Regions from separate parts of the Homo sapiens genome. Here region 2 is linked to region 1. A link means that fine-mapping ties the variant in region 1 to the expression of a gene that starts in the linked region. Tissue or cell type: whole blood. Region 1 holds a variant in brackets; the other region holds the start of a gene. All regions are shown on one strand. Distances are from middle to middle.

Evidence for each region. PIP is the estimated chance that this variant, and not a neighbour inherited with it, causes the effect. A credible set is the group of variants that fine-mapping cannot tell apart.
Region 2: it holds the start of ASNS, and the variant in region 1 is the best candidate, but not a certain one, in a credible set for the expression of ASNS in whole blood (TOPMed, PIP 0.58).

Annotation. Positions count from the first base shown.
Region 1 is chr7:97,960,301-97,968,488 of GRCh38, reverse strand. The region is part of intron 1 of CZ1P-ASNS (CZ1P-ASNS readthrough); the gene reads left to right. MIR5692A1 (microRNA 5692a-1) reads right to left here and starts at 4,831; the gene lies at 4,763-4,831. MIR5692C2 (microRNA 5692c-2) reads left to right here and starts at 4,008; the gene lies at 4,008-4,084. It also overlaps the pseudogene OR7E38P and the pseudogene CCZ1P-OR7E38P. The variant G/A (reference allele first, on the strand shown) is at 3,571.
Region 2 is chr7:97,869,243-97,877,430 of GRCh38, reverse strand. It overlaps ASNS (asparagine synthetase (glutamine-hydrolyzing)), which reads left to right and starts at 5,023. Exons shown (of 13, transcript NM_001673.5): 1 at 5,023-5,080; 2 at 7,618-7,653. It overlaps CZ1P-ASNS (CZ1P-ASNS readthrough), which reads left to right. Exons shown (of 19, transcript NR_147989.1): 8 at 7,618-7,653. RefSeq lists silencers at 4,792-4,881, 5,192-5,301 and an enhancer at 4,427-5,142.

The DNA of each region.
Region 1 (8,188 bases):
CAGAGGTCGAGGCTGCAGTGAACTGTGATTGCGCCACTGCACTCTACCCTGGGCAACAGAGCGAGATTCCATCTCAAAAAAAAAAAAGGATAAAAAGTTTGATGATTCCATTCATTGAGAGGAAACTGAAAAATAACAAAAATGTGGGTGATATTCTGTATGTAAATTGAAACTTCAGGATAAGTTGAAATTTTTGAAAGATGCCTAAAGCAATTAGGTGGTTTCATAAATGAGACAACATCACTTAATGGTAGTTTTTGTAACATATTTTTAACTTAAGTTTTCTCATGTAAATAGTCTCTGTATTGAAAAGAACTGGGAGATTTAATAAGCTGAATTAATAATTCCCTAGAGCCTATATCTTGCTTGGCACATAGGAGATAGCCAAAGTCAACATCTATGTGAATTCTTGAATTCACACTTCCTTGGTTCACAAAAATTGGCTGTCATAAGTGTAACTTTGACTTACTTGATTCCTCTTGTTTTTTTGTTTTTTGAGACGGAGTTTTGCTCTTGTTGCCCAGGCTGGAGTGCAGTGGTGTGATCTCGGCTCACTGTAGCCTCTGCGTCCCAGGTTCAAGCCATTCTCCCGCCTCAGCTTCCCGAGTAGCTGGGACTACAGGCGCGCATCACCATACCGGGCGAAGTTTTTGTATTTTCAGTAGAGGCGGGGTTTCGCCATGTTGGCCAGGATGGTCTTGATCTCCTGACCCCGTGATCCGCCCTCCTCAGCCTCCCAAAGTGCTGGGACTACAGGCGTGAGCCACCGCATCTGGCCAAACTTTCTGATGAAAACTCTAAGTCCACCTAAGCTAAGGACAGGAGTTACAGCTTCCATGAATTTTAAAACCAGACCCACCGATTTGAGTAAGCAATTACTCTCTTGAAGGAGAAAAGTCAGAAAACATAATGATGAAATCACTAGGACCTAACTGGCATGTGGAATTATTTTCTGCTTATGAACTATCAACTTTAATTTCATTTCCAGATGACATGGTCTCAGCTGTTCTACAGTGTTTATAAATGTTCTAAATCAAGGGAATTCATCAATCTAGTAGAATAAAATATTTGAGTTCTTAATTTCCTTTAATTAGGATAACCTTTTTCTTCAAGTGAAGAGAATGGTTTTATTACATAGTTTTCTTCGGAAAAGATAGGCTGTATTTTCTAGCAGTTACGAATTTGTTATGTATGATGATCTGGTTCTTGGAACATTCTTGAATCTAGTGTCTCTAAGGCAGGTGTGTACAGCAAGAAGTGAATAACACAGAAATCAATGATGAAAGCATTAGAAGACAATTGAGTCTGTCAGAACTGCAAAATATTGCTGAGTGTGGATTGCTCTGAAATCTGAAAACATTACTTGTGAATTGCTTCTATTCAAAATGCAGACACAATGCCAGGTGTTGGTTTACTTGTTTCCCATTTTTCAACCCTCGTTTCTAGGCAAAGGTGTCCAAATTATGCAGACCCACAGAATCTAACAGATGTCTCTATATTCCTCCTCCTAGAAGTCTCAGGGGATCCAGAACTGCAGCCAGTCCTTGCTGGGCTGTTCCTGTCCATGTGCCTGGTCACGGTGCTGGGGAACCTGCTCATCATCCTGGCCATCAGCCCTGACTCCCACCTCCACACCCCCATGTACTTCTTCCTCTCCAACCTGTCCTTGCCTGACATCGGTTTCACCTCCACCACGGTCCCCAAGATGATTGTGGACATCCAGTCTCACAGCAGAGTCATCTCCTATGCAGGCTGCCTGACTCAGATGTCTCTCTTTGCCATTTTTGGAGGCATGGAAGAGAGACATGCTCCTGAGTGTGATGGCCTATGACTGGTTTGTAGCCATCTGTCACCCGCTATATCATTCACCATCATGAACCCGTGTTTCTGTGCCTTTCTAGTTTTGTTGTCTTTTTTTTTCTCAGTCTTTTAGACTCCCAGCTGCACAACTTGATTGCCTTACAAGTGACCTGCTTCAAGGATGTGGAAATTCCTAATTTCTTCTGTGACCCTTCTCAACTCTCCCATCTTGCATGTTGTGACACCTTCACCATTAACATAATCATGTATTTCCCTGCTGCCATATTTGGTTTTCTTCCCATCTTGGGGACCCTTTTCTCTTTCTCTAAAATTGTTTCCTCCATTCTGAGGGTTTCTTCATCAGGTGGGAAGTATAAAGCCCTCTCCACCTGTGGGTCTCGCCTGTCAGTTGTTTGCTGAGTTTATGGAACAGGCGTTGGAGGGTACCTCAGTTCAGATGTGTCATCTTCCCCCAGAAAGGGTGCAGTGGCCTCAGTGATGTACACACTGGTCACCCCCATGCTGACCCCCTTCATCTACAGCCTGAGAAACAGGGATATGAAAGGTGTCCTGCGGCAGCCGCACGGCAGCACAGTCTAATCTCAATATCTTATCTGTTCCATTCCTTTGTAGTGTGGGTTCAAAAAGGCAGCAAGGTCAAATAATGATAACACAGGGTGAACACCTACTGTGATATTAGGAGTAATACCTCCCTAGGATATAAAGAATACTGTCACACAGTATACACAAAAGGGGTATAACCACTGTGATATTAGAAGCAATATCTCCCTATAATATGATGAAAATTATCACAGGGTATGCCCACTGTGTGATCTTAGGAGTAATCTTTACCCTGGATATTATGATTAACATCAAGGGTGTACACACCCGGGGTACACGCACTGTGATATCAGGAGTTGTATCTCCCTAGGATATTATGAATCATATCACAGGGTATACACTATGTGTGTACATCCACTGATATTTCAAGTCATATCTCTCTATGAGATTACAAATAATATCAAAAGGTGTACACCCCCGTGACCTATTAGGAGTAACGTCCTTCCAGGGTATTACAGATAACGTCACAAGGTGAACACATTTTGTGACATTTTGTACACCCTTTGTGACATTGAAAGAAACATCCCCCTAGGATATTACGAGTAATGACAGGCGGTGTACACACACGGTGTACACCGTCTGTGCCATCAGGAGTAACATTCCCCTAGGATATTATGAATAATACCACAGCAGGTGTACACACATGGTGTACACCCCATGTGACATTAGGAGGAACATGCCCCTAGGATATTAGGAATAGTATCACAGGTGTTGAATATGCATGATATACACCCCTGGTGACATTAAAAGTAACAAGCCCTTAGGATATTATGAATAATATCACAGGGAGTACACCCCATGTGACATTAAAAGTGACATCCCCCGAGGATATGATGAATAATATCAGAGGGTGTACATGCATTGTGACCTTAGTAACGTCTCTAGGATATTATAAATCGTATCACAGGGTGTACACGCATTGTGACATTGGTAGTAACATCCCGCTAGGATATGACGAGTAATGTCACAGGGTGTACACCCCCTGTGACAATAGTAACATTCCCCTAGAATATGACGAATAATATCACAGGAGGTACAGCCCCTGTGATTTACGAGTAACATTTCTATATAATATTACACGTCATAGCACTGTGTGACTCTGTGTACACCCTGTATGACATTAGGAGTAACATCCCACAAAACAATTAC[G/A]AATAATATCACAAGGTGAACACCCTCTGTGACATGAGGAATAACGTAGTTTTAGGATATTATGAATGATATGACAAGGTGTACACACCCTGTAATGTTAGGAGAAATAGCCGTCTAGGATATTAGGAATAATGTCACAGGGAACACACCCCCTGTGACATTAGGATAATACGAATGATATGCCAAGATGTACACGCATTGTGACATTCGTACTAATATCCCTCTGGTATACTATGAATAATATCACAGGGTGTACATCCCTGTGACATTAGGAGTAACATCCCCCTTGAATAGGAGGAATAATATCACAGGGGGTACACACCCTGTGACTTTAGGAGTATCAGCGCCCTGGAATATGAGGAATACTGTCCCAGGGTATTAACCACCTGTGACCTGAGGAGTAACATCCTGTTGGAATATTACGACTCATATCACAGTGTGTACACCAACTGTGATATTAGGAGTCCTATTTATTTTTAGGATATTAGGAATAATATCACAGTAGGTGTACACAAATAGTATGTACGCCCACGGTGATATTAAAAGTTATATCTCCCTAGGGTATTCCGAATAACATCACAGTGGGTGTACACCCACTGTGATATTTGAAGTCATATCTCCCTAAGATGATAAAAAAATCAAAGGGTGGACCCTGTCTGTGACATCAAAAGTAACATCTCTGTGGCTATTCCGAATAGCATCACAGGGTGTACACAGCCTGTGACGTTAGGAGTAGCATCCCCATAAGATATTCCGAGTAATATCACAGGGTGTACACCCCATGTGACATTAAGAGCAACATCTTCTTAGGATATTACGAACAACCTCACAGGGTGTACGCCCCCTGTGACTTTAAAAGTAACATCCCCCTAGAATATTAGGAATAATATCATGGGTGTACACCCCGTGTGACATTAGGAGTAACATCTCCCTAGGATATTACAAAGAACATCACTGGGTGTACGCCCTCTGTCTTATTAGGAGTAACATCCTTCTAGGATATGAAGAATATCACAAGGCGTACACACACTGATATTCGGAGAGATATCTCCCTAGGATATAAGGTGTATCACAGAATGTACACGCATGGTGTACACCCACTGCGACATTAAAAGCAATATCTCCCTATGAGAGTATGAGAAATATCAAAGGGAGAACACTCTCTGTGATATTAGATGTAATGTTTACCATGGATATTACAAATAATATCACAGGGTGTACACACATGAGGTACACCCACTGTGGTATTATTTGTACTGTCTTAGATATAATTCTAATATAACACGGAGAGCTATAACTCTGTAGTATCTGAGATATTACAAATAATATCACAGTCTACACATAGTGTACATAGTGTACACCCACTGTGAGATTTACAGTAAAATCTCCCTATAAGACTACAAATATTATCGAAGTGTGTGCACCCCCGTGACCTTAGGAGTAACATCCTTCTGGATATCAGGAATCATATCATGAGGCATACACACCCTGTGACATTTTGTACACTCTTTGTGACATTCAAAGTCACAGCCCCCTAGTATATTACGAATAATATCAAAGGCGGTTGATGCACACGGTGTACACATCCTGTTACATTAGGCGTAATCTTTTTCTGTGATTTATGAATATCACAGAAGGTGTACACACATGCTGTACACTCCAGGTGACATTAGGAGCAACACCCCCCCAAGATATTAGAAATAATATTACCAGGGTTGCATACACATGGTGTACTCTCCCTGTGACATTAGCAGCAACATTCCCCTAGAATATTACGAATACCATCAGAGGGGGTGTACACACATAATGTACGCACCTTGTAAAATTAGGAGTAGCATCTCCCTACGATGTTATGAATAATATCACAGAAGGTGTACGCACATGGCCTATACCCCACGTGATGTTAGGAGTTACATCTTTCTAGTATGTTAGGAATAATACCACAAAGGTGTTCACACATGGTTAACAGCATATGGAATATTAGGATTAACATCCCTCAAGAATATTACAAATAACATCACAGGGGCTGTGCACACATGGTGCACATGCCCTGTGACATTAGGAGTACATTTCCCTGGCACATTGCAAGTAATATCACAGAGTGTACACCTTCTGTGACATTTGGAGTAACATCCCCTAGGATAGTATGAATAATATCACAGGGTGTACATCCCCTGTGACCTGAGGAGTAACATCCTTCTAGGACATTGTGAATAACATCACAAAATGAATGCACAGCCCCTGTGACACGAGGAGTAACATCCACCTAGGATATTCTGAATAATATCACAGAGAGTACACCCCATGTGACAGTAGGAGAAACCTCCCCCGAGGATATAACGAACAAATACAGAGGATGTACACGCGTCGTGTCACTAGCATTAACATCCATTTAGGATATTACGAATATTATCACAGTGTGAACGCCCCCTGTAATATTAGGAGTAACATCCCCCTACAATATTGGGCACCATATCATACGGTGTACACCCCCTGTGACATTAGAGGTAACATTTCATTAGGTTATGATGAATAATATTACAAGGTGTAAGGCCCCTGCGACATTTGGAGTAACATTTCCATAAAATATTACGAATAATATCACTGTTTGTACACCACGGGTGACATTAGGAGTCCCAGCCTCCAAAATTATTATGAATAACTTCACAGGGCGTACACCCTCTGTGACATTAGGAGTAACATCTTTCTAAAATATGACGAATAAAATCAAAAAGTGTACACCCCATGTGACATTAGAAGCAACATTGCCCGAGGATATAAGAAATAATATCAGATTGTGTACGTGCATTGTGACATCAGTAGTAACATCCCTTTAGGGTATGACGAGTATTATCAGAATGTGAATACCATCTGTAACATTAGGAGTAACATCACCCTACAACATCGGGAATAATACCACAGGGTGTACACCACCTGTGATATTAGTGGTAATATTTCTTTAAGATATTATGAATAATATCACGGGGTGTACAGCCCCTGTGAGATTAGGACTAACATATCCAAAAAAGCTTGACAAATCATATCACGGTTTATACACCAAGTGTGACATTAGGAGTAACATCCCCCAAAACTATTATGAATAACTTCACAGATTGTACACGCTCTGTGATATTAGGGGTTCACATCTTCCTAGAATGTGAAGAATAACATCACAGGAGGAACACCCCCGTGATATGAAGGGTAACATCACTCTAGGATATTACGAATAATATAACAAAGTGTACCCAATTTGTATGGTAGGAGTAACATCCCCTGGGATACTACAAATCATAGCACAGAAAGCGCAGCCCCTGTGACAACAGGAGGAACATCCCCTTAGGATATTATGAATAACATCACAAGGTGTACACACATTGTGACATTAGTAACAATAGCCAGCTAGTAGATGGTGAATAATATCACAGCGTGTACACATTTGCAACATGAGGAGTCACATCCCCCTAGAATATGAAGAAGAATATCACAGGGTGTACACACCCTGCGACTTTACGATAATCATCCCCCTGGATGACTACAAATAATTTCACAGGATGTGAAACCCCTGTGACAATAGGAATAATATACTTCTACGATATGACAAATAATATCACAGTTTGTACACCCACTGTGATATTAAAAGTTATACCTCCCTCAGATATGGTGAATAATATCACAGGGTGTACCCTCTGTGGGATACTAGCAGTCATGTTTACCATGGATATTACAAAGAATATCACAGGTGTAAACACATGGGGTACGCCCACTGTGATATTAGGAGTTATGTCTCTCGAAGATATTAGAAATAATATCCCAGTGGGTGTACCCCATGTGTGTACACCCACTATGATACTTTAAGTAATATCTCTCTATAAGATTACAAATAATATCGAAGGGTGTACAGCTCCCGTGACATTAGGAGTAACATCCCCCTACAATATTGGGAACAATATCACATGGTGTACACCCCTGTAACGTTAGGGGTAACATCCCCCCAGAATATTACTAATAATATCACAAGGTGTACACGCATTGTGACATTAGTAGTAATATCCAGCTAGCATATTTTCAATAATATCACAGAAGGAACACACGTGTGACATTAAGAGTAACATCCCCCGAGAATACTTAGAATAATATCACAGGGTGTACACCCCCTGTGACATTAGGAGTATCATCTCGCTAGAATATTATGAATAATGTCACTGGGTGTTATCTTCTGTGACATTAGGAGTATAGACCCCTGGAAAATTATGAATACTTTCACAGGGTCTACACCCCTGTGACATTAGGAGTAACATCCTTCTAGAATACCACGAATCATATCACAATGTGTACACCCCCTGAGTCATTAAAAGTAAAACTGTCCTAGGACATTACGAAATAGAACACAGGGAGTACACCCCGTGTGACATTAGAAGTAACATCCCCCTAGGATATAATGAAGAATATCAGAGAATGTACCTGCATTGGGACATGAGTAGTAACATCTTAGGATAATACGAAGAATATCAAAGGGTGTACACACATTGTGAAATTACTAGTGAACTCCCGCAAGGATATTACGAATTTTATGACAGGTCCGACTCGCCCTGTGACATTAGTAGTCACCTATTCCTAC
Region 2 (8,188 bases), 91 kb after region 1:
TAAATCCACCAACAGGAAAGTAATATAGAAGTTAAATGGGCCAGGCATGGTGGCTCATGCCTGTAATCCCAACACTTTGGGAGGCTAAGGTGGGTGGATCACAATATCAGGAGATCGAGACCATCCTGGCCAACATGGTAAAACCCCGTCTCTACTAAAAATACAAAAATTAGCCAGGCGTGGTGGCACGCACCTGTAGTCCCAGCTACTCAGGAGGCTGAGGCAGGGGAATCACTTGAACCCAGGAGGTGGAGGTTGCAGTGACCCGGGACCATGCCACTGCACTCCAACCTGGGCAACAGAGAGAGACTCCATCTCAAAAAAAAAAAAAAAAAGAAGTTAAATGAATACTTTTGACCATTGATGGAAGTTGCTTTCATTCCCTCTTACTTAATCATCTTTATCTTAGCCCTGAAAGAGGGATGCTTTAACCCCATTTGTAACAAGTGAGTCTGAGGCTCAGGAAAGTGATAGAATTTAGCAAAGTCCACCTTGCTACCTGGTGGCCCCAGCTAGAACTCAGCCCCAGGTCCATATACCTAAAGTCATTACAGCGTCCACTAAAATTTTGCCCCTCTCTCGATGCCTTCCTCTTTAGAAGCCTGTTCCTTCAGGGATAGATCCCAACTCAGTGTTACAAGGTACTGAACTCTGATTTTCACAAAATATAGTAACTGCCCCCCAAAATTAATAATAGTATTTTTGAGCTGGGCACGGTGGTTCATGCCTGTAATCCCAGCACTTTGGGAGGCTGAGGTGGGTGGATCATGAGGTCAAGAGATCGAGAGCATCCTGGACAACATGGTGAAACCCCGTCTCTACTAAAAATACAAAAATTAACTGGGAGTGGTAGCAGGCACCTGTAATCCCAGCTACTCAGGAGGCTGAGGCAGGAGAATCGATTGAATCCAGGAGGCAGAGGTTGCAGTGAGCCGAGATTGCACCACTGCACTCCAGCCTGGCAACAGAGCAAGACTCCGTCTCAAAAAAAAAAAAAAAAATATGTTTGAGTCCTTATGTGTCAACCACTGGGCTATCCCAACACCAATAGCTATTATGATTATGATTATTTTTTCCATTTTATTGATGAGGAAACCAACACATAGAAAGGTAAAGGAACTTGCCAAAGGTGACGGTCACACAGCCAAAGAGCTGTAGAAGCAGCACAGGAATACCAGCAAACTCACAGCCAAGCTCTGCTTTTCACCTTCACATCATACAGTCCTCAGACTAAAACCCTAACTCTGACCTTCCAAATCAAAAATCATACTCAAGGCCGGGTGCGGCGGCTCATGCCTATCATCTCAGCACTTTGGGAGGCCGAGGCAGGTGGATCACCTGAGGTCAGGAGTTCCAGACCAACCAGGCCAACATGGTGAAACCCCATCTCTACTAAAAATACAAAACTTAGCCAGGCGTGGTGGTGGGTGTCTGTAATCCCAGCATTTTGGGAGGCTGATGCATGAAAATCACTTGAACCCAGGAGGCAGAAGTTGCAGCGATCCATGATCATGCCACTGCACTCCAGCCTGGGCAAGAGAGTAAGACTCTGTCTCAAAAAAAAAAAAATTGCCTAATAATAGCTTGGAAGTGCACATGTCTTCTGTGAAGGTTGATGGACTACAATTAGCTTCAAAACACAAATAAGTAACTGTGTTTAAATGAGGCCTTCTGTGTAATATCTAGGGAAAATCAATGTGGCTATTCAAATTTGTTTCCCCTTCCAAGCACAGAGAAGTTGCTCATGACTCTGTGATCCGTTTTGTCCAATGAACCATGAGCAGCAGCAGCAACTTGAGTCACCTCCAGGTGGAAGTGTTAAGAGGCTCTATGATCCACCACATTCCGTTTCCCCTGAAGGGTGATCAAGGACACATGCAGAGATGGGGCTTTTGTCAGCCTGGATCCCTGAGTGAACACAATGAACAGACCACCACACAATGCCCTAACACAGCCCAGACATGCAACGTGACCAAGAATAAGCCTCACTGTGGCCAGGCATGGTGGCTCATGCCTGTCATCCCAGAACTTTGGGAGGCCAAGGCGGGTGGATCATTTGAGGTCAGGAGTTCAAGACCAGCCTGGCTAACATGGTGAAATCCTGTCTCTACTAAGTACAAAAATTAGCCAGACAGTGGTGGCATGGGCCTGTAATCCCAGCTACTCAGGAGGCAGGAGAATCACTTGAGTCTGGGAGGCAGAGGTTGCAGTGAGCTGAGATTGCACCACTGCACTCTAGTCTGGGTGACAGAGTGAGACCCTGTCTCAAAAACAAACAAATACCTCACTGCATGGAGCCACTGAGATTTGGGGATTGTCGTTACTGCACCAGAACCCAAATCATCCTGACCGCTAGGGTGTCCTAACTAGGGTTTCTTCCCAAAAGCAAAGGCATTTTTAAAGTTCGTGACATTTAAACAAAAGAGCAAATACCAATATCTACCACTTCGTCAGGCTAACAAACCCAAACAAAGCCAACAGCCAGAAGTTAAAATAAACAGATCATTAGGTTGAAAATAGAACTGTCAAAACAGGCACAATTGACTTCATTTAGTGATTGCAAAGAACATCAGGCAAGACACACGTGTGGTCATCATAACATTTATCACATGCTTAATTGCACATGTTTGACTAAGAAAAACACAAAGTATTTAAGCTCATCTGTAGTTCAAAGTGCCTATCCGTGTATTTATCTATTCATCCTGATGTATTTATTGAGCAACTCTTTTGTGCCAGGCACTGTGCTGTGTTGCGGGAAGTCAGGGACCCCAAACGGAGGGACCAGCTGAAGCCATGACAGAAGAACGTGGATTATGAAGATTTTATGGACATTTATTAGTTCCCCAAATTAATACTTTTGTAATTTCTTATGCCTGCCTTCACTGCAATCTCTAAACATAAATTGTAAAGATTTCATGGACTAAACTTATCACTTCCCTAATCAATACCCTTGTGATTTCCTATGCCTGTCATTACTTTAATCTCTTAATCCTGTCAGCCGAGAAGGATGTATATCGTCTCAGGACCTGTAATAATTGCGTTAAGTACACAAATTATACAGCATGTGTGTTTGAGCAATATGAAATGTGGGCACCCTGAAAAAAGAACAGGATAACAGCAATTGTTCAGGGAATAAGAGAGATAACCTTAAACTCTGACCGCCGGTGAGCCAGGCAGAACAGAACCATATTTCTCTTCTTTCAAAAGCAAATGGGAGAAATATCGCTGAATTCCTTTTCTCAGCATGGAACGTCCCTGAGAAAGAGAATGCGCACCTAGGGGTAGGTCTCTAAACTGGCCCCCCGGGGCGTACCTGTCTCTTATGGTCGAGACTGCAGAGGTGAAATAAACTCCAGTCTCCCATAGCACTCCCAGGCTTATTAGGAAGAGAAAATTCCCACCTAATAAACTTTGGTCAGACCGGTTGATCTCAAAACCCTGTCTCCTGATAAGATGTTATCAATGACAATGGTGCCAAAACTTCATTAGCAATTTTAATTTCACCTTTTGCATCTCCTTGAAATGTCTGCCTTTGCACACTCTCCCTGAAAGAGGAGGGCAAGGGAGCCAGGATAGAAAGTGAGGTGGAGAAGTGTAGAGCTCTGGACGGACAAGCAGGAGATACGCAGCACAAGGAAGCACACTAGGTAACACACCAAGCAGGGGAACCTGTCTTTCACTACATAGGCAAGATGCTACGGGAAATGGGCTCTGGGTTTACACAGATTATGACTCAGTTCTCTACTGTTGTGAAGCTGTGTTTGGATAAATCCCTCAACTTTTCTGAGTCTTATTTTTTCATTTGTAAAATGTAGATAGAAGACCTACTTTCCCACATTGCTCTCAGGTTTAAAGTACGTCAATTAGGATACAGCAAAGTCTGTTTGATACTGAAAACTTTCCAGCAACAATGAACCTTAGAACAAGTCATCTCTCATCTTTGCTCTTGCCTGTAACTACTAAGCGACTACTCCATCTTCTGTTCTTAGGGATTTTAAATTGTTGACGTTTTTGATTTAGTCAGGAATGCGTTGTATGGGGATATCAAACCTGCATGCTCTCCAAGCATTGACTGTAGTCTGATCTTAGTAGGTCGTGCACATATAATTTTACTATTTCTCAATTTATTTCGGTGCTGATGTAATTAGTAAAATACGATTTAAGAGTGTTATGATACTTTTTAAAAATCGTGATGTCTTTTCTTCATCAAAGAGATACTTAAAAGCACATAATCATCTTGTGGAGGCAAGTTGACAAAATCCTTTTTGAGATTCTAAAAGGAATCTTTGTACTTAAAATGTTTAAGGACCACTGATGTATTTTGGCTTCATGTATCAATTAGATTTAGATTTTATTGTTTTAGAGATGGGGGTCTCCCTTTGTCGCCCAGGCTGGAGTTGAGCTCACCTCAGCCTCAAACGCCTGGGCTCAAACTATCCTTCTGCCTCAGCCTCCTGAGTTGCTGGGACTACCATGGTGTGCCACCAATTTTTATAGAGATGTGATCTCGCTGTGTTTCCCAGGCTGGTCTTGAACTCCTGGTTTCAAGTGATCCTCTTGCCTTGGCTTCCCAAAGTGTTGGGATTACAGGCGTGAGCCACCGCTCCTGGCCCCGATTTATTAATAGATCTTATAAGGACATTTTAGGCCTCACGCATCAGTTTCTTAGGACAAGCTTTTCTCTGCACTGCATAATAAATCAGACGGCAGTGCAACAAAAAAACGGTGATGATTTCCCGAAGAACAAACCAAGTTCAGAAGCCTCCCTAATTGTCAGAACAGCAGGTAGCCTGGGCGGAGCTCTGAGGCTATCCTTAAACAGGCGCACTGAGACGCAAGGCGCTGGAAACAAAAGAGCTCCTCCTTGCGCCCTTCCGCCGCCCCACTTAGTCCTGCTCCGCCCCGGACACCCCGCGGCCCCGCCCCTGTGCGCGCTGGTTGGTCCTCGCAGGCATGATGAAACTTCCCGCACGCGTTACAGGAGCCAGGTCGGTATAAGCGCCAGCGGCCTCGCCGCCCGTCAAGCTGTCCACATCCCTGGCCTCAGCCCGCCACATCACCCTGACCTGCTTACGCCCAGGTGAGCCGGGTCCTGCGCCCCGTGCCCTGCGCCCCGCGCCAGCATCCTCCTCGCGTGCCCTGGGGCTGCTCCGGAAGGAAGGGGTGGAGGATGCGGTCTTCAGCCTGGCACCCGGCAGACGCGGTTCGCGGGCGCCTGCTGATGCTGCGGCTCCTGCGGTAGGGAGGGCGGGGCGGACGCCTAGCGATTGTTACGCACCTGACAGCTAGCGGAAGGACCTTTCTGTCCTGGTTCCCTGAAGCATCGAGAGGGAACCGCGGCCGGCAGGCCGGACCGCTCCGGAGAGGAGGCAGCGGCAGTTTGAGCCCCTGTAAATGTTATATGTGTACTTTTTTTTACTATGTGGCGTCGAAGCCTGTGGACATTTTCGCGGTCCGGGTCCCTGCGGCGGACGGGTCGGATCGTGCTCGTGGCCAGGGCGCAGTCAGGTGTCGCGTGGTCCTGATCTAGGAAGAGACTGCGGCCTTATCACCGTCTCGGTGTCTGCTTTCACCTTCAACTGCCCCCCTCCTCACCTGGACCGCTCACCCTCCTCCTCCCCTCTCACCCCGCCATCCCCACCAGTCCCCACCTGTCTCTGTAGACTGCAAGACTCATCAAGTGACTTGCTGAGCAAACCCTGCCGAGAAGAGGTCTGTTTAGGGACACAGGCGACCAAGTACAGAAAAAGGCAAAAGAACTAGCATGCCTTTTTCAATGGCTGTCATTTTGCAGGGCTGGCTTCAGATGATTGTTATAGCTTTAAATAAAAAGGACAGTTTTCATCTCGGCCCGTGGCCTACATTATTTCTTTACTGTCCATTGCCCTGGGCGCTTGACTAATAATTTAACAGCAGTTTTTTTTTTTAAATTTTAAATCATGATTCATAGCATTGCTGTAAGAGTAATTAGAGGTAAAGTAGGGCTTGAACCTGTCTGTAGTTGGTTACTTACTGAGATCTTAATATAAAAGTAAAGGGAGAGGGTGAAGTTGTAAGTAGCACTAAGTGGAATAGAAATTAAATGCACTGAAACTGCCATGTCCAGTTCGGTAGGCGCTAGCCACCTGTAACTGTTGAGCACTTGAAGTGCTGGCTAGTCCTAACTGAGATGTATTGTGTTAAATACACTGGATTTTGTCGTTGGAGTAGGAAGAACAGTGTAAAATATCTGCTCGATAATATTTTATATTGATTACATATATGTTAAAATGTTACTATTTGGGACATACTGAGTTAAGTTTATTTAAAATTAATTTCACCTTTTTCTTTTAATGGGGCTACTAGTATATTTAAAATTACATATGTGGCTTACATATATATTTATTGGACAGCACTGTTCTAGAAGTTTAGGAAGAAATAAGAAAAATATTGAGAACAGGTAGCGGCAGTAGGAACTTTGCCCTCCTATAAGACTGATTCCAATAAAAATAATAGGTTATAGTTTTAATTGGCTTTTTCCTACTAGAAAAAATAAGTGTACTTTACATGCCTCTTTGTTCTCCCTTTTTCCCCTCCAGTTTAGTGGTTAGAATGTATTTATTATAGCAGGATTAATACAGGGATTCACTAAGCAGCGTTAAGAAGACTTAGGTAACTGATTCCCTGATGACCATACTTGATTTTCAAAGCACTTTCCTAACCCGTTTTAAATTGATATAGAGTCAAAGGCAGATGGCTTATTAGTAGTCATCTCATTTAAATCTTATGGAATTTTTCCAGTAAATCTCAAATAATTTGTTATAGGCTATTTGGGCTATTTGGTCAAGTGCATGGAAGAGACAGCATAGGACATGTGGTACTTCATTTCCAAATTGCTTGAGATGATTTTCATTCTAACCATATATTATTTGGTTCTGGTTTTCCGGAAAAGCCAGCTAAACCTTTGGTTCTTTTAGATATAAATGAAATATCATCAAAGAATAGCTCAAAGTGACTTATGCAACTTGAATGTATATTTTTTCCTTAGGGTGTTTATCCCAAACTATTTGGGCATTTGCTGCAATTCGCAGTTTTTTTAAAAAAAACACCAAAATAGTTATTTTTCAAGTTAGAGATGTTTTAATTAAAACATCTTGTTTTTGGTGTATCCATTGACATTCTCAAAACGGAATGTATCTGGACCTCTGTGTACAATCTTCGTAGCACTCAGACACTGAACAGAAAGGCAGTCATCACTGCCAAACAGGGCCCAAATGCCACACATGGTGCAATGTGTCATTTTGAGCTGGCAGCAGCCAAATAAAACAGCCCTTTATTTCACAGTTGAGAATTTGAAATTGGAAAGTAATTAACGTATGTAAGGGTGATTTATTTGCTTCCGGGCTTATAGGGATGAGCTAAGTTTTTTATTAGGGATGTTGTTGGTGTATATGTCTCACCTACTTTGCTTCCTTACTGAACAATGCAACTTTGAGACAGAAATATTTGAGAACATTTTTGTCAGTGAGGACATTTTGATAGTGAATATTTTGTATCTTCTATTAACTTGAAATGTTTTATTTGTTATAAAGCCAGGATATCTGATATCAAATTAAATTGTTTTTTTTTTCCCTTTAGATTTTCTTCAATCACATCTGAATAAATCACTTGAAGGTAACCTAGATGTAATATAGTGAAATGCTTGAAAGAGCTGCGTATCTTTTACACTTACAGCAGTATGATTTTCTGTTGTACCCATTATATGGTACCTGCAGCTAGTTCAGATAAAGAGGGCATTTAACTGTCAAGGGAACCTGAGAGGAGACTCTAGTAATCTGGAAAGTCTGTTGGATCTTTGAGGGATTTTGGGATGGTGAGAGTGGGGCTAGGATCTCTGGCTAGGTTGGAGCCAGCCTGCATTTGTATCTGTATCTTGGAAGCAAACTTAGAATGCAGAGACAGATGTGGCATGGACGCTGTCAGCTCTAGCCAACCACTAAATCCTAAGGTGGGAGAGATGCAGGCTTTGGCTAGGTGCTAAGCTGCTGTAGCCGGTTGAATGTAGAGGTCACTATCTTTTCCGAATACCTGTAAGTAAATTAAATCATTCTCTACTCCCATGTGCCTGCCAACCTAATGGGAAATCGCTATAGAAAAGATGGTTTAAATTTTAGTCTTTGAAGTGGTTTATGCACGTTTCCGGAATCAA